Linked DNA regions of Homo sapiens: region 1 is linked to region 2. The links come from fine-mapping of genetic effects on gene expression. Tissue or cell type: whole blood. Region 2 holds a variant in brackets; the other region holds the start of a gene. All regions are shown on one strand. Distances are from middle to middle.

Region 1 (8,105 bases), 95 kb before region 2:
GTATAAGATGCAGTGGGGAGGAGGTTCAGGAAAGTCTGAGGCCTACTTTTCTTTCTTTTTTCTTTTTTGAGACAGGGTCTTGCTCTGTCGCTCAGGCTGAGTGCATTGGTATGATCACAGGCCACTGCAGCCTCGACCTCCCAGGTGCAGGGCAATCCTCCCACTTTAGCCTCCCAAGTAGCTGGAACTACAGGTGCACACCACCACACTTGTCTAATTTTTTTTTCTTTTTTTTTTTTTTTTGTAGAGACGAGGTTTCACCATGTTGCCCAGGTTGGTCTCAAACTCCTGAGCTCAAGTGATCTGCCCACCTCGGCCTCCCAGTGTTGGTATTACAGGCATGAGCCACTGCACCTGGCCTAATTTTTGGTATTAAGACCTGCTTTTCATAGGGCATTCAAACTGCTTCACCCAGCATTTCAGGGATTCTTCAAAGACTATTTGGCTTGGTGTTTGAGGGTTCAAGCTTATATCCCCTCTTGCCTTGATTTGGATTTGTGCTTATTGTTCCCAGAAGGCATGGTACCCACTTCTGGGTCTTCACTAGGTCCCCCTCCCTCCCCACCTGTCTTGGCCTCTCAGTCCAACTCATTTAATACACATTGCTTTGTTTCCTACCTTTTAATCATCTGTCTTCTCTGCCCAGATTTTGTGGCCAACCCTCAGCCCCCAGAAATGGGCCTTTTGGCTTTTTATAATCGAGTACACTGAAATTTACTGTGTTCTAAGCACTGTTCTGTTTTATATACATGCTTTCATTTTATTTTCACAAGCCCAGAAGGTGTTAATTTTAACATCTTCATTTATAGAGATTAATTTGTCCAAAGCCATGAATAGGAGGCAGAACTCAAATTTGAAAGCAAGTCTAACTCCAGAATTTGGGCTCCTTTCAGTGACTGCTTGCCTAACCCTGCGTGACCACATAATAAGCCTCAACGAATATTTACTGTGGATAATACTCCCCTCCCACAGGAACTTCTCTTTGCCATGAGTGATCTCCCATAGTGCCTGGGGTTTGAACTACCCACTTTGGCACCTACTGGTCTATTGTCTGATACTATTGTTTCTTCTTTCCCTCATCTCAGGCTCTATTTTCTCATACTATTGTTTCTAATGTTGCCTTTGCCTAGCAGTTTTCCTTCTCTCATCAGGTCAGGGATAGTCCTATTGGCTGACGTGGGCGTGAGGGTGCTACGGCCTTCACAGCGGGATCTTCCTCCTCCACTGAAGACAATCAGTGGCATTCAAATCTAAGACTCCTTTGGGGTGTTTGTTAAAAATACAGCTGATTAGTTTTGGGGTGGGACAGAGGAATCTGCATCTTTAACACTCAGATCATTCTTAGGTTATAGTCAGTGCATCAGTCTACATTCCCGCCTTGTGAAGACTGACCCATTTAGGCAGGATTATTTCCTGGTATAGGGATTCTCTAAACATTGCACACAGCTGAAGAATTGGAAACTGGGCCTCTTTTGTTTCTGGATACACCACTTGGCAGGTGTAATAACATCCTCTGACAGGCTGCTTGCCACAGGTGCATGCTTGACACGTGCGTCTCGTTGGTACCGTCCCCTCCCCCCTTCCCACCCCTGCTGCCCAACCAAGACCCCTCTAGTCCCACCACCACCCGGCAGCTGTTGCCCTCCTCCAAGCCCCCAATCCTCCCCGGCCCACTGCCCTCCCTTCCTTTCCTTTCCCTGCCCCCACACCCCTTCCCCAGGCTCCTCCCACCCCAGAATATTTTTTTGTTCCTAAGTTTATCCTGTGAGGTGGGGGTGGGGGAACTGGTTAGATGGAGAGGACGCTCTGCCATTTAGAGGTCCTACTGAGTGGGCACACCTTTTCCCCTCGAGAAAACCTTGTTTCTACCAGAGAAATGGGCAGAGGCCTCTCTCTGGAACTTGAACCTCTCTGTCCCTGGAAACATCCCAAAGCAGGCCCAGCCTGCCATGTTCCTTTGTTGGGGCACAGAGGGAATGGAATCTTACCGATAAGGTGAGAAGAGCTTGAGAGAATACCAAGGACGGGCCCACCCTTCTCCCTCCTCCCTCCAAACACCTCAGGCTAAAAGGGGAGGGAAAAAAAAGGCACCAACAAAGAGTTTAAGACAGCAATTCCCAGCTTTTTCAAATATGAAGCATTTTTTAACCAATCCGTTTTTTAATTCTTAAATTCTTGACATTACAGAACTAAACTGAAATTTATTAACATTCCACTCTTACATTTCTTATCGACAAACAGAAATAAAATTCATGAGCCAAAAAACCCAAAACAAAACTAAAAACAGGGAAAAGCTTATAAAACTAAATATGGATCCCAGCATTAACAGCTGAACAGAGAATGTGATTTTTAAATTCTTAGCGGATGATAAAGTTGTGTAGAAACTGAACACTTACAAATTATTTAAAACCTGGAATCACTGACCAGAAATTACACAGTTGGATCATGGGAGAACAGCAGAAAGGGGTTATTGAGGGAACCTACACTGTTCTAGCTGCACCCCATGCCCTTCTCAGAGGAAAGCCTGGCATTGATTAGATACTGGGCCAGACTAATACTGGCAGCAGAGCCAGTGATAGTAACCTGCCTACCAGAGGAGCCTTCCACTGGGTTGGCAATTTTGATCTGGGCCCCGGACATCTGGCGGATCTCATTAATGTTGGCGCCTTGGCGCCCGATTATGCAGCCAATTAAGTTATTTGGAATGGTGAGTTCATGGGTGGTTTGAGTAGATGCATCCAAACTTGCCCAATAGCCTTTCACCTCTGGAGAGCTGGAGTCAATTCCGGCGAATCCGGTCCCGCCGTGCATCATGGCAAAGTGAGACTGTTGTCTTGCCACCTGGTTCAGCTTGGCCAGATCGAGCGGAGAAATGGTGTGTTGTCCTTGAATCGAGTAGGCATCTAGAGGTGGTCCCTCCAGGTCATGGGTGGCATGGGGGTAGCCCGCAGCGTCGCTGCACCGATCTTGGCCGCCCGCGCAGATGACTGGGGAGCTGGCCGGCATGGGCTGGTACGGAATGGTCATGACTCTCCCTTGCGGAGACTGGGAGAGCGTCTCCAGCATGACCAGGCAAATCTGCTTGACACACTCGGTGACAGACTGCGGCACGCCAGCGATGGTGATGGCCCGCTCGGTGGAGTTGGGCAGCATATCCCCCGCCACCTGGACCTGCGCCCCCGTACTCTCGCGGATCTCTTTGATCTTACACCCGCCTTTCCCAATCAGGGAGCCGCACTGGGTGGCCGGCACCACCAGCCTCAGGGTGACCGGGGGCCTGCTGGCCGCGGTACTGTTGGTCATGGAGCTGTTGATATCTTCCTCCAGCTTGTCGATGATCATAGCGAAAGCCTTAAAGATGGCATTGGTGGGGCCGGTCAGAGTGATGATTCTCTCCGGACAATTCCCCTCCGAGATGTTGATCCGCGCGCCACTCTCCTCGCGGATCCTCTTAACCGACTCCCCTTTCTTCCCAATGATGCTTCCTACTTCCTTTCCGTGCATAAGAAGCCGAATGGTGAGAGTCACATTTAGTCCACTTTCAGTCACACCGGCATCCATGGCGAGCGGCGGGCGGCGTTCGGGGGAGTTGGGCTCGTTACGTGGTCAAGTCTTTGGCGGCTGGCGGGGGGAGGGGAGGTGTAGGCCCAAAACTGCCGGCGCGAGGCGAGCGAGGGCCGCGGGAGCGAGCGGGAGCGGGCGGGAGGCCGCAGCGTAGTCGCAGGGGCGGGCGGCGGCGGCGGAGGGGGCGAGCGGGGCCGGGAGCGGCGGGCGGGCGGGTGGGCGAGGGCGCGGCGGTGGCGACTCCGGCGGCAGCCTCGGCGGTCTGGGCGGGGCGGGAAGCCCGCTTTCAACCCCGCGTACCCTCTGACCCCGGAAGTGCTTGCTGCGCAGGACCCCTTGAAAAAAAATGAGGACCCGTCTTTTTTAGGTCACAAGATTGCGCCAACCCTTACATGGTCCTTAAAAAAAAAACCTTCTGACACTGCAGTAGTGAAAATGAAGCGCACGATGGGCGGAAGCTGTGAGTCCGGCAAAGTTTTAAAATGATGACGTATTTTATTAACTCTAACGGCACTGGCGGGTGACTGAAAATACTAGTGCTGTGTATGCGGGATAGACATTATTTTCCTGCCCTACATGAGGGGCTCGTGCGCGGAACGACATGGGCAGCCCCGGCGGAAACTGCAGGCACAAGCCGGGACGCCGCGGGTTTAAAACATGCGCGTGAGGTGACCAGAGCGCGTGCGCGAGGGTGTGGGGGGATGGGAGGGGCAGCAGCCCTCTTCCGGGGGGGAGGGGCGGCGAGGCGAGGCCTGCGGAGCGGGTGCGCGCGGGCGGGCACGTGGGGCCCTTTCGTCCCCGGCGTCCGGGCGCCCTGCATGGATCCCCCACCCCAGCTCCTGCTCCCCGGCGGCGGCCGGTGGGCAGAAAGACCGAAACCCACTCACGGCCGCCTGCCGAATCGCGGCTCTGCTGTTTGTGGGGCGTGCTAGAAACGTGGTCCTAAAAAGAATGGCGTCCATTTACATAATGCTTTGTTTGCGTTTCGCAAGTTTCTTTCGGTTAAAGCCACAGAAACCCCACCTCCTGCCCTTGTGTCGTTTCCACCGCGGCACCCTTTTCCGACATTAGAAACAATAGTGTACGCCTGTGGAGGCCTCGTTTGTTCAGGGGCTGCCGGCCAGGGCTTCAGGACGTTTCTGCGGCTTTCCCCGCGCGGCCTGGGCTCCCGCGGCTGCTTTTCGGGCCCATGGGCGCAGCCACTGCGCCAGGCTCAAGGGGGGCGGCCCCGTCAGGGCCCGCCATCTTGGAAGGCCTTTTTTGCCGGTTCTTCCCGCTGAGGAAGTGTCGCTCAAGACGCTGGCCTATGAGTTGTGATTTCTGCCTTTTCCCCTTCCTCCTTGGGCTAAGCCAGACCAGAAAGGGCCCCGTGCGCAACGTGCTTCACAATCTCTCAGGGAAAGCGGCTAACGTGGCGCTACTCCGCCTCCCCTGTTCCTTACCCTTGGGGCGGCCGCCATGTTTCCTGAACACAAAATGGCGACACGTGGTTAGCATTCGTCGCCAACGAGAAATTGGGGTCGGCCCGAAAGCTCTAGAATGCACCCCTCTTCCTCCCCGGGGCCTTCCACCTCCGCGAGTTTTATGACTTAAAAAAGCCCACAGGCTGGTCTGAAGGTCGGAGGCCTAATTTTAACGCGTTTTCCTCCCTTTAATTTGAAACGGGAACGCGAATGACTGTAAAATGTGGGCACAATATTTAATCTCTCGCCTTTTTAAAGCTTAATAGTGGATAATAGGGGGGCAGTATCAAGGGATAATTTGGGTCCCCACAGTACCAAAGCATTTAGAAACCTCTGTTTAATTTAAGGAATGAGATAAGTTACTGCTTTTCTAGACTTCCTAGCATGGGCTGTTGTGCTGGAGAGAACGAGAGCTACGAAGAGACTACAGTGCCTCTGACTTTTTCATAGGACAGTTGGCCGGTGAATCTTATTAATAGTTTACCACAATTAAGTGTTCATTTTTAGTCTAGAAGGGACAGGCGTTTATTGTGCATTGGCCAGTGCCAGCACATCCGATGCAAGGCAGTTCACCGTATTCTATCTTTAATTTTTACCATGGTCCTCTGAGGTAGGTGTTCTTATCTCTCTCTCTCTCTCTCTCTTTTAAACAGAGGAAGACAAACATAAAGATGAAGTGCTTAATTCAAGGTCACACAATGTCGGGGATGGACCTCCAGATTTCCTTACTGGTGAGCACATTTTCCAGGTTTTTCTGTAAATCAGGGTTTTGGAATTTAAATACTATTTAAAACGTTTAGGTGAGCTTGTCATTTAAATGAGCCCTTCAGGTAATCTTTTGTTGTGCAGTCAGCCCCTTTTTGTATCAGGCAGCTCCCAGCTTTTCCTGATAAGAGCTACACCTGTAACGGGCGGGCGGGCTGAAATGCTGTCTTATGCAGTGTCTGGTGAGGATAGGGAGGGGGAAGTGATTCAGCCTGCCCAGAGGCTCAGGTGTCTGTCGGTCTGGCCCTGTCTGTGGCACATTTGAGCCTACCTGCCTCTGGGGGAGCAAATGGTTTTTTGTATGACTGACTTGCTTCCGTCAGCTCCCCATGGGCTTGACTCTTGCCTCCCCCACCCCAGCACCCCAACCAGGTAAAAATAAATTCGCTCTGGCACCAAGCCTCCATTTCTCTGCAGAGATTGACAGAGCATGACAGAGTGTTAGGTCAGTCTGTGGACTCTTCAGTTCAATGCAACACGTAGCTAGTGGGCCAAGCAACAAACTGGTGCCTGAGCAGGGCTCTGATTGTGTGTGGATATGAGAGACAAAGAGAAGGGCTTTTTGCCTTTAACTTATGTTACTATCAGATATATTTTCCAAAGTGGTTTCATGTTAGTTTATATAACTCTACGAACATTTAATAGGTACATAACAGCAACGATGACAGTTACAGCACTAGGTGCTTACTGTGTGCTGGGCATTGTTCTAAGCCTTATTTTATGTATTCAGTGTCTCACATTTTTAAAAAAACCACTAAGAAACAAATTTTACATTATGATTTAAGACATTTATGCACACATATGTAACAAAATTTTTGCAAAACAATATTTGTTACTACATGCAGTATATGTACTTGGGTAATTTCTATTCTTTATATATAAAAAGGACACATTATAAAGTGATTAAAAACCCATTAATAAGTTGTGACCGCTTATACACATTTAATCCTCACAAAACCTCCTGAAATGGGTGGTGATATTAGGTCAGTTTTACAGAGGTACAGATTAGTGAAGGAATTTATCCAAGGTCACACAGCTATTAAGTGGTAAAGCAAGGATTTGAATTTAGGCAATCTGAGTCCAGAGACTCCATTCTTAACCACTAAACTGGATGTGGTCTCTGCAGAGAGTCCTGTCTCATAGGGAGACAGAATAGATGAGGGAATTAAAAATATTACCAAGTGTTAGAAACTCAGGTGACAACAAAAGGACTAAATTGCATATAATCAAGGAATGTTCAAACAAAGCCTTCTTCTGGTCTTTTAAATCTAACTTATTTCTTTTCTCTAGAGAAAATTTTATCTGTCAGGTCTTTCTTTCCAAGACTACCTACTGAAATATTTCCATAATTTCCTGTTATGTACTCCTGGGACTTAGTGCACCTCCTCAGTGAAGCCTTCCCTTTCCCAGCTTCCCCAGCTCTTAGCCTCCCTCCTTCCCCGAGAGTCTTAACAGTTTCTCCCTTCGGTAGCCCACGTTTGGACGTTGGTTAAATTGTAATGTGTCTTGGGGTTGGTAACATGTCATACAGACACCTTGGGTGATGCTGTGGTCTGGCAAAGAGGTCATTGGACCTTGGAATCTGAGGCTCTGGGCCCTAGTCCTAGCTCTGCCCCTGTCTAGCTCTGAGACTTCTACAACTCATCTGTCAGGGTTTCAGTTCTCCCTTTTATAAAGCAAGAGATTAAATGATCTCTAAGGGTCCTTCTACTTATGTCCAGGGACTGATGATATTTGATGACTTTGGTTATTTTTCTTTGGCGGGGTGGGAGGTTTATGTAAATGTTTTCTGCACTTTTGGTAAAATCTCCACTCCCTTCCTCAGACCTGCATTATCTTGTGGATACCTGAGTGAATTCCACACCACCCATTTTATAGATGAAACCACTGAGACATGGAGCAATTGACTGAGTAGTCACTGCCCCACCCCTGCCTGGAGCCTCACACATGACTCGCCTCCTCTCAGTGACCACAGGTTGGTTGAGGGGTTTAACAAGGCTAAGAAGGTGAGTCAGGTTTAGACTTTGGAAGTTGAACCACAGGATTTATGCTACATACAGAGGAATGATTGTTGCTTCCTCTTATGTTAAGTTGGTATGTCACGTAAAACCTTTCAGAGTGCTTTCACGTTACTTGTTTAATCATCACAGACAACTTTGCCAGTAGGGTCTTATGCCCATTTTACAGAAGAGCCATTTTTGGATTAGAGGAGTGAAGTGACTTGCCCAACGTTACACAGCCTGTTAGAATTTGAGCTGAACCTCTTGACTCTTAGTTATGGATTACACCTTTCCATGGCTTCTGATGCTTTTG
Region 2 (8,105 bases):
TGGTGAGAGCTAGGGATGTTATGCTGATACCCCACCTGACTGCTCCACTACCAAGTGCTCCCCAAAGAGATTTGGAATAAAGGAGGAGGAGGCCTTGGTTCTTAACTAAGGATGATTCCAACCATCTGCAAAAGCAGGCATCAAGTAGAAGATTACTTGGCTGTTTCCACATCGAAACCAAATGGGCTTTCTTTCTCCCCCTAACGCTGGCCTCAGCCCTCATTCTGCCTGCATGAGAAGGCGGTGTCTAGTACTGCCCCTCCCAGGCCTCTCCAGGCTTCCTTCTTCCTGCTCTTCCCACCTTGGGACAATTGCCCCTGCCCTCCCTTCTGCCCTGTGTCCCTCTTCCTGCTCCCACCACAGCAAGCCCCACCTCCTCCAAGAAGGCTTCCCAGACTCCTCTGTCCCTTCCAGGTGAGGCTAGTTCTAGGGCCCTGAACAAATTCCATTTGGCTTCCCAACTGAGGGTAAGGTGGCAGGGATGGGTCTTAGGAAGATCAACTGCAGGATGGATGTGAGTGTAACCACTGTATTTCTGACTTCTTCGACCACTGCTTATGGTGAGAAAGATATCTCCTGTCCCAAGCAGGACACACCTCAATGTATGGATACATAGCACTGAAGCAAAAGTTTTTTTTTTTTTTTTTTGAGGCAGAGTCTTGCTCTGTCACCCAGGCTGGAGTGCAGTGGCGTGATCTTGGCTCACTGCAAGCTCCGCCTCCCGGGTTCGCACCATTCTTCTGCCTCAGCCTCCCGAGTAGCTGGGACTACAGGTGCCCGTCACCACGCCTGGCTAATTTTTTTTTTGTATTTTTAGTACAGACGGGGTTTCACTGTGTTAGCCAGGATGGTCTCGATCTCCTGACCTCGTGATCTGCCTGCCTCGGCCTCCCAAAGTGCTGGGATTACAGGTGTGAGCCACTGCACCCGGCCGCAAAAGTTTTGTCAAAACAATATTCACCCTGACTACATGTGATGTGCTTGGATATTATTCTGTTTAATTAATTAATTAATTAATTTATTTATTTATTTTTTGAGACGGAGTCTCGCTCTGTCACCCAGGCCGGAGTGCAGCGGCGCGATCTCGGCTCACTGCAAGCTCCGCCTTCCAGGTTCACGCCATTTTCCTGCCTCAGCCTCCTGAGTAGCTGGGACTACAGGTGCCTGCCACCACGCCCAGCTAATTTTTTTTTTTGTATTTTTAATAGAGACAGGGTTTCACCGTGTTAGCCAGGATGGTCTTGATCTCCTGACCTCATGATCCGCCCTCCTCGGCCTCCCAAAGTGCTGGGATTACAGGCATAAGCCACTGCACCTGTCCTATTCTGTTTATTTTTTTAAAGAGAAAGGCTGGTTGTGACCCACTAAATTGATTTCATGACCCAGTAGCAAGTCACAACCCACCAGGTGAGCAACATAGAGTGAGATCCTGGCTGCATCTTTGCCCCAGCTGTGACAGCCAGCCCTTCCCAACTCAGAGCAGCTCCAAACACAGCCCAGGCTGCCCGTTACTGTACCGCCCACATGCTGCACCCCGGGTTCCTTGAAGAGCTAGCACATGATGAGCTCATCCAAGTGGTCTCCCTGAGGGGCTCTGCTCTTTCCCAGACTCTCACTGCTCCGTTGGTCATGCTGTAAAATGGCCATGGCCACAGATGCTGTGTCAGGAGGTTGAAGTCTATAGAACACACTAGACACGTAAGAGAAGGATGCCAGGTCAGGGCCAGGGACACAGGCTGCACATCTCACCTCTCTTGATCTCATCCCTCTTAATGGGACCTCTCAGGTCTAGGGGTCTCACCAACGCTGCTCATCTAGCAGGGCCACACATAACAAATAGAAGCAGAGCAAGCCCTGGAACTCCTGCCTGACAGTGACACGACGACAGAAACATCTTACCAGTCAGAGGACCATGAGAAATAGATTCAAGGAGCATTCCACGTGCAAGTGAGTCTTGGCCCCATCTGCCTTTGGATTTTAGCCGTGAACTGGAAGGTATTGGAAAGAAGACCCTCAGAAATAGCTTAATCAAAATCCCTGCGTCTGAACCAAGTGCCTTATTTCTCTGTGGGCCTCAAGCTTCGCTGACATCTGTGGAGCACACTGTCCTAACAGGAGTGCTGTCTGATTTCCCAACGCTCTGCAAAACAAACAGCCTGGAAGGGTGGCTGGTGGAAGGTGGTTTTTAGAGAGAGACTTGTAGATAACAGGAAAGTGAAGGCTGTAAGGAAGGTTGTAATTAAACAGCACATGGAAACACAATCACATTATTGTCCCATTCCATAGGGATAATGATGACCACTTCAGTGGGAAAAGGAGAGGTTTTAAGTCATTAGGGACTATGGGCCACCTTTTAGGAAGATTTATTTTCAAAGGTTAAAATAGTGTTTTGGCAATTCAAGTTTCATTTTCAGAAAATGTAATTGATGGGAACCTCAGTGACTCTGGATGAATAAGATGCTGTTGAGTGGCTCTGACTTGGGCCAGCCGTGCTTCTCACAGGACCTTGGAGACCAAGGTCACTGTGATCTCAGGTTCAGGGGGCAAGTCCTCTCCACACAGCCCTAGTTGGCCTCACAGCTGAAAATGTCTCCCTTACTGTTGGACTCCTTTGTTCACCCACATGAGTTTGTGAATAAATCCTTTCCAGTCTGAAAGCTTGCTGACACTTGGAGACAGGTGTGGAGAGAGGACTCTGAGCTGGACACTTCCTGGGGATGGCAGGCCTGGTGGGATGGCCTAAGTAGCCATGGGACAGGACACAGCAACTCAGATGTGGGCTAGGGGTGCAGTTTGTGGAGCAGTGGCGGAGGGGTAGGCAGGTGTGGGCTTGAGGACAAATTCTGCCCTCTTCGCTACGTGGCCTGAGCCAGGGCAGCCCACTTGCCGAGGCAGGGCCGGGTCTCTGTTTCTTTGGTAGCCTGATTCCTCCCCACTCCCTGGCCACGTGGTCCCCAGATCTGCTTCTGTGAATCACCCTGAGTGACTGCAGGGGTGCTTCAATCAGTGAGGGGATCTCAAAGAAAAGCCAGGTATTTCTTAGACAAGGATTCTTAGATAAGGTTGATTTATTCCTCACCGTCTGAGAAAGCAACAGTCTAGTAGAAGGCAGTGGGGCCCAGGGCTCTGTCACCTCACCAGGAGGTCTCTGTCTTGACAATAGATTACTACGTAATGCACGTGTAATGCATTGCACATCCTATTGTTGACATTTTGCAAATCTAATTTAATTACAAAATGATGAAACCATTTCTCCCAAAGGGGGAGGATAACATGAAATCACAATAATAACCTAAAATAACAATATCAAAGTTCTAGGAAAAGATTTTAGACAAACCACTCTGTGACATGTCCCCAAGGCGAGAATGGAGTAGGGCTTGATCAAAATGGTGGTCTCAAACAAGCTGCCTAAAGGAATTATTATTTCAGTGGGATTAGAATAATGTGAGGGGTAGAGGAAAACCTGCCAGGCATAAGCATTCCACCTAGTGGAAATTAGATTTTGATGATGAAATCGCAAATGATTTTAACAGGGAGGAAGGGGGCGGGCAGCAGCCAAGGAGAACAGATGAGTGTAGGTTTTCAATGAACCTGCTGGGTTTTCACACTGCCTGATGCCTTGGCTGTGATATACCATGGGTATGTCAGAATGTCCAGAAGGACCGAAGTCTAGAATTAGCAACGATTGTAAAGGAATCCTGGTCAGCACCAAAGTTGTTTGTTTGCTTCCTTATTGGTCTGTTTGGAGCAAGAGGATGGACAAGGCAGCGACTCCCCTCGGCTAGGCGAAGACGCCGAGTAGAGAGAACAAAAAAGTGCACAATTCCCATTTTGTTTCCAATTCTACTTCCCTTGAGAATAGTCCTCACACTGGCAGAAAAAAAAAAAGTGGAACAAAGATCATTAAGAGTGAAATGAAGCCCCTAACAGAAGAGAAAATGTAAAATAGAGCTCTCTCAACTCTGTCCTAGAAAACGACCCACTTGTCACATTCCCCATAGGTGGTCACATTCCCCACAGGTGGTCACGTTCCCCACGGGTGGTCATCCAGGTTGGCCAGAGCCCCCAAAGCAGCACTTCTGGAGAGAGGTGGCATGACCAGAGACAAATCCATTTATTAGTCCTAAATTTCAAGACAGAGAAGAGAAACTTGCTGAGCAATGTGTTTTTTCTCTTTTCCTTTTTTTAAATAAAGCCCCGCAGTGGCTCACGCCTGTAATCCCAGCACTTTGGGAGGCCGAGGTGGGCGGATTGCCTGAGGTCGGGAGTTCAAGACCAGCCTGGCCAACATGGTGAAACCCCTCTCTACTAAAAATACAAAATTAGCCAGGTCTGGTGGTGCATACCTGTAATCCCAGCTACTCGGGAGACTGAGGCAGGAGAATCGCTTGAACCCGGGAGGCGAAGATTGTGGTGAGCCGAGATTGGGCCATTGCACTCCAGCCTGGGCAACGAGAGTGAGACTCCATCTCAAAAAAATAACAAATAAAGCCCCTGAAGGGAGGCTTCTCTGGGCTGCAGGTGACCCAGCCCCCAGAGGAACAATAAATGACTTTGGGGTAACAAAGTCATGACTCAAAGTAGTCTTGTCAGGGTGGAAAAAAGAAGACATTTTACAAGGGAAAATGTAAC[A/G]TTTTATATTTGGGTTCACTAAAATGATTCGTTCAAATACATAGTGGAGGAGCGTGGGGGCCCAAGGGGACTGGTTTTCCATGGGTTCCTTATGGACCAAGAGTGTGAAGATCAGGAGAGCCCCCACACATGGGAGGCAAGGACCTAGCACAGGGAGGGCCGCAGCCTTTCTCCATCCCCGCTTCTTGGGCCAACTGCCCGTGTGTGGGGTGCAGCTCTCAGATCCCAGCCAAGTAGGAATTCCCCAGGCAGGTCACCAAGAGGAAGGGGGTGTGGGGGCAGAGCAGTGGTGACGATGCAGGGGCTGTTAGCCAGAGGAGAGGTGAATTTATATAGCTGAAAAGCCACCAAAGATGAGAGAGGGACCGTTCTTTATGTCCAGCAGGCCACGTTTGAGGAGGCTGGCTGGGGTCCCATCTGAGATGAGTGCCGGTGTGGTGCGGAGTTCCCTGCCAAAGGAGGGTCTACACAGTCTCAAGATGGCCTCTCTGCCAGGGTACACCTCAGAAGGGATCTTAGAGGCTGCGTATGAAGGTGGCCCGAGGGCGCCTAATGTCCCTTCCCAAGAAGTTGATGATTACCATGGATGAGGAGTCAGTAGGAGAGAAAGTGTCCTTGTCCAGGCAGCTGGGAGGAGTGGTTAAAAGGGAGGCCAGGTGTGGTGGCTCACACCTGTAATCCCTGCACTTTGGGAGGCCAAGGCAGGGAGATGGCTTGAGTCCAGGACTTAGAGACCAGCCTGGGCAACATAGTAAGACCTCATCTCCACAAAACATTTTTTAAAAAATTAGCGAAGTGTGGCAGGAGGCTCAGGTGGGAGGATCACATGAGCCCTAGATGTCGAGGCTACAGTAAGCCCTGATCACACAACTGCACTCCAGCCTGGGCCGCAGAGTGAGACCCTGTCTACATAAATGAACAGGCTGGGCACAGTGGCTCATGCCTGTAATCCAAGCACTTTGGGAGGCTGAGGTGGGAGGATCATTTGAGGTCAGGAGTTCGAGACCAGCCTGGCCAACATGCTGAAACCCTATCTCTAATATAAATACAAATATTAGCCGGACATGGTGGCGGGGGCCTGTAATCCCAGCTACTCGGGAGGCTGAGGAATGAGAATCGCATGAACCCAGGAGGTGGAGGTTGCAGTGAGCCAAGATCTCGCCATTGTACTCCAACCTGGACAATAGAGTGAGACTCTGTTTCAAAAAAATAAAATAAAATAAAAATACATAAACAAACAAAAATAAAAAGGGCAAACCAAGGCACCGGGGTTCAAGCCCTGCCTCTGTCACTTTGTATGACCTTTGGCAAGGTACTTAAGCTCTCTGTGCCTCAGTGCCTTCATTAAAAATGAGGATCATGGCAACAGGACACACCTGCGAGGATTTCCGTGAGGGTTAAAAGAGTTAAATGAAGATTCTTAGCACTGTGGCCACACCCATGGCAAGGGCCATGTGCTGGATAGCTGCTGCAACTGTCATTGTCACCATCATCATCATCACCGCTGATTTAACATGCAGTTACTGAACCCTGTCTATGTGCCAGGGGAGTAGAGACCAGTAGGGTGGGTCCCCGCCTTCAAGAAGTCACAGCCCAGCATAGAAAGCACAGAATTGTCACATGCAGAGATGGGTTAGGGGCAGCACAGGGTGTGGTCACATCACCTGGGTGGGGCCCAGGAAGGCTCCTGGGGTTGGCGGGCCAGTGCCTCTGAAACCATGACGTGGCTCAGAAGCATTTCAGCATCTTGTTTTCCCGTGCTCATCAGGCTGTTTACTCTGGGGGCGGCTGTGCACTTAGTGCCCCCTCCACGCCCCAAATGAGCGCCGGGACTGGCCAGGACTGGCAGGGCTGGCTGGGCAGGTCCAAGGGCTCAGGGACCCGCCCCAGGGCCTCCTGGGCACACCTGGGGCCCACAGCCCCCCATTCCTGGGCCTTAAGGCCTGAACTCTGAGGCCCCCCATGTACGTGCACCCCTCTGTGCCAAGCACTGTCCTGTGCTGTGCTGTGGTGTTGTGTCTGATCCTGGGAGATGGGTGGTGTCAGGGTCATTCTCATTTTACAGCTAAGAAAATAGGCTGGGACATTAAATGTCTTATAAAAGGCCCAGCCAGGACTTGGAGCCAAGGTTTCCAATGCCAAAATCAGGTGCCGTTTCCATACCCCACCCTGGGCAAGACCAGAGGTGACTCAGCCAAGAACCCTGCCCTCCAGGAGGAGATGGAGCCAGAAATCTGAAAACTGACCCTCCAGCCCGGGAGAAGTGTGGCGGGGCTGTGAGAGCCCTGCCCTCTGGGCCCTATCCCCTGCCCATGCAGATTCTTGCAAAGTGGCCCCTGCCTGCTCACTCTTCATGGAAGCATCTCCTGGTCAGTGGTTGTTTTAGAGAAGGAAGGCAGTGGTTTAGGAAAAAAAAAGTGTTCTTTAGTGGTGGCAGCCTTTTTGTCAAATAAAATTTTATCAGAATACACTCAAAATTGGTAACAGGAGAGCCGTTCTGGGTACAGAGATTGAGGGGAACCTGTGTGTGACCTCTTGCTTCCTGACCCCTCCCATCCTACTCCAGACTCTTCTGCAGAACCCCATGTTGACCCCTGCTTTGAGGTGGCAGAGTTAACACTACTCTTCGTTATAAGCTCTCGTCTGGGGCAACTCAGAAGAACGTAAGTTCCATGGGGAAGGTTTTTGTTTGTTTCTAATTGTGGTAAAATATATATAACATAAAATCGACCATTTTAATGATTTTTGAGTGTACAATTCAGTGACATTAAGTATATTTACAATATCATGTAACCATCAACACCATTCATCTTCAGAACTTCTTCATCTTCCCACACTGAAACTCTCTACCCACTAAACACTAACTCCCACTACCCACCAAACATTTCCCTCCCTGCAGCTCCTGCAACCACCGCTGTACTTTCTGTCTCTATGAACTTGACTACTCTAGACACCTCATGTAAGTAGAATCATAGAGTATTTGTCCTTTTATGTCTGGTTCTTTCACTTAGCATAATGTTTTCAAGATTCATCCATGTTGTAGCATGTGTCAGAACTTCATTGCTTTTTACGGCTGAATAATATTCCATTGTGTAACTGTACCACATGTTCATCTGTTCAGCCATGCGTGGGCGCTTGGGTTGTTTCTTCCTTTCAGCTATTGCAAACCAATAATGCTGCTGTGAACATGGGTGCGCAAATATCTGTTTGAATCCCTGCTTTCAGTTCTTTTGGGTCTATACCTAAAGAAGTGGAATTGCTGCATCATATGGTAATTCTATGTTTAACTTCTTGGGGAACCACCATATCATTTTCCACAGTGGCTGTATACTACTTTACATACCCACTGGCAATGCACACAGATTCCAGTTTCTCCACATTCTCCCCATTGTGGCAGGGGTTTTAAACCTCTTCATCACGGGTGCACCCCCGGAGACTAGGGCAGTGCCTGGCACATTGTAGGTGCTTGATAA

What was found. PIP is the estimated chance that this variant, and not a neighbour inherited with it, causes the effect.
Region 1: it holds the start of PCBP1, and the variant in region 2 is fine-mapped to the expression of PCBP1 in whole blood (TOPMed, PIP above 0.99).

The regions. Positions count from the first base shown.
Region 1 is chr2:70,083,200-70,091,304 of GRCh38, reverse strand. It overlaps PCBP1 (poly(rC) binding protein 1), which reads right to left and starts at 3,828. Exons shown (of 1, transcript NM_006196.4): 1 at 2,102-3,828. The coding sequence starts at 3,561. The coding sequence ends at 2,491. PCBP1-AS1 (PCBP1 antisense RNA 1) reads left to right here and starts at 4,290. Exons shown (of 11, transcript NR_033872.1): 1 at 4,290-4,327; 2 at 5,681-5,758; 3 at 7,618-7,767. It also overlaps a transcript of ASPRV1 not described here. RefSeq lists silencers at 1,486-1,575, 1,666-1,715, 3,742-3,801, 4,252-4,401 and enhancers at 2,524-2,690, 2,762-3,406, 4,612-4,821, 4,862-4,951, 5,092-5,231.
Region 2 is chr2:69,987,932-69,996,036 of GRCh38, reverse strand. It overlaps PCBP1-AS1 (PCBP1 antisense RNA 1), which reads left to right. Exons shown (of 11, transcript NR_033872.1): 9 at 7,199-7,295. It also overlaps a transcript of ASPRV1 not described here. Among named protein-coding and RNA genes, the nearest start is that of ASPRV1, 30 kb to the right of the region's middle. RefSeq lists an enhancer at 2,371-2,870. The variant A/G (reference allele first, on the strand shown) is at 4,633.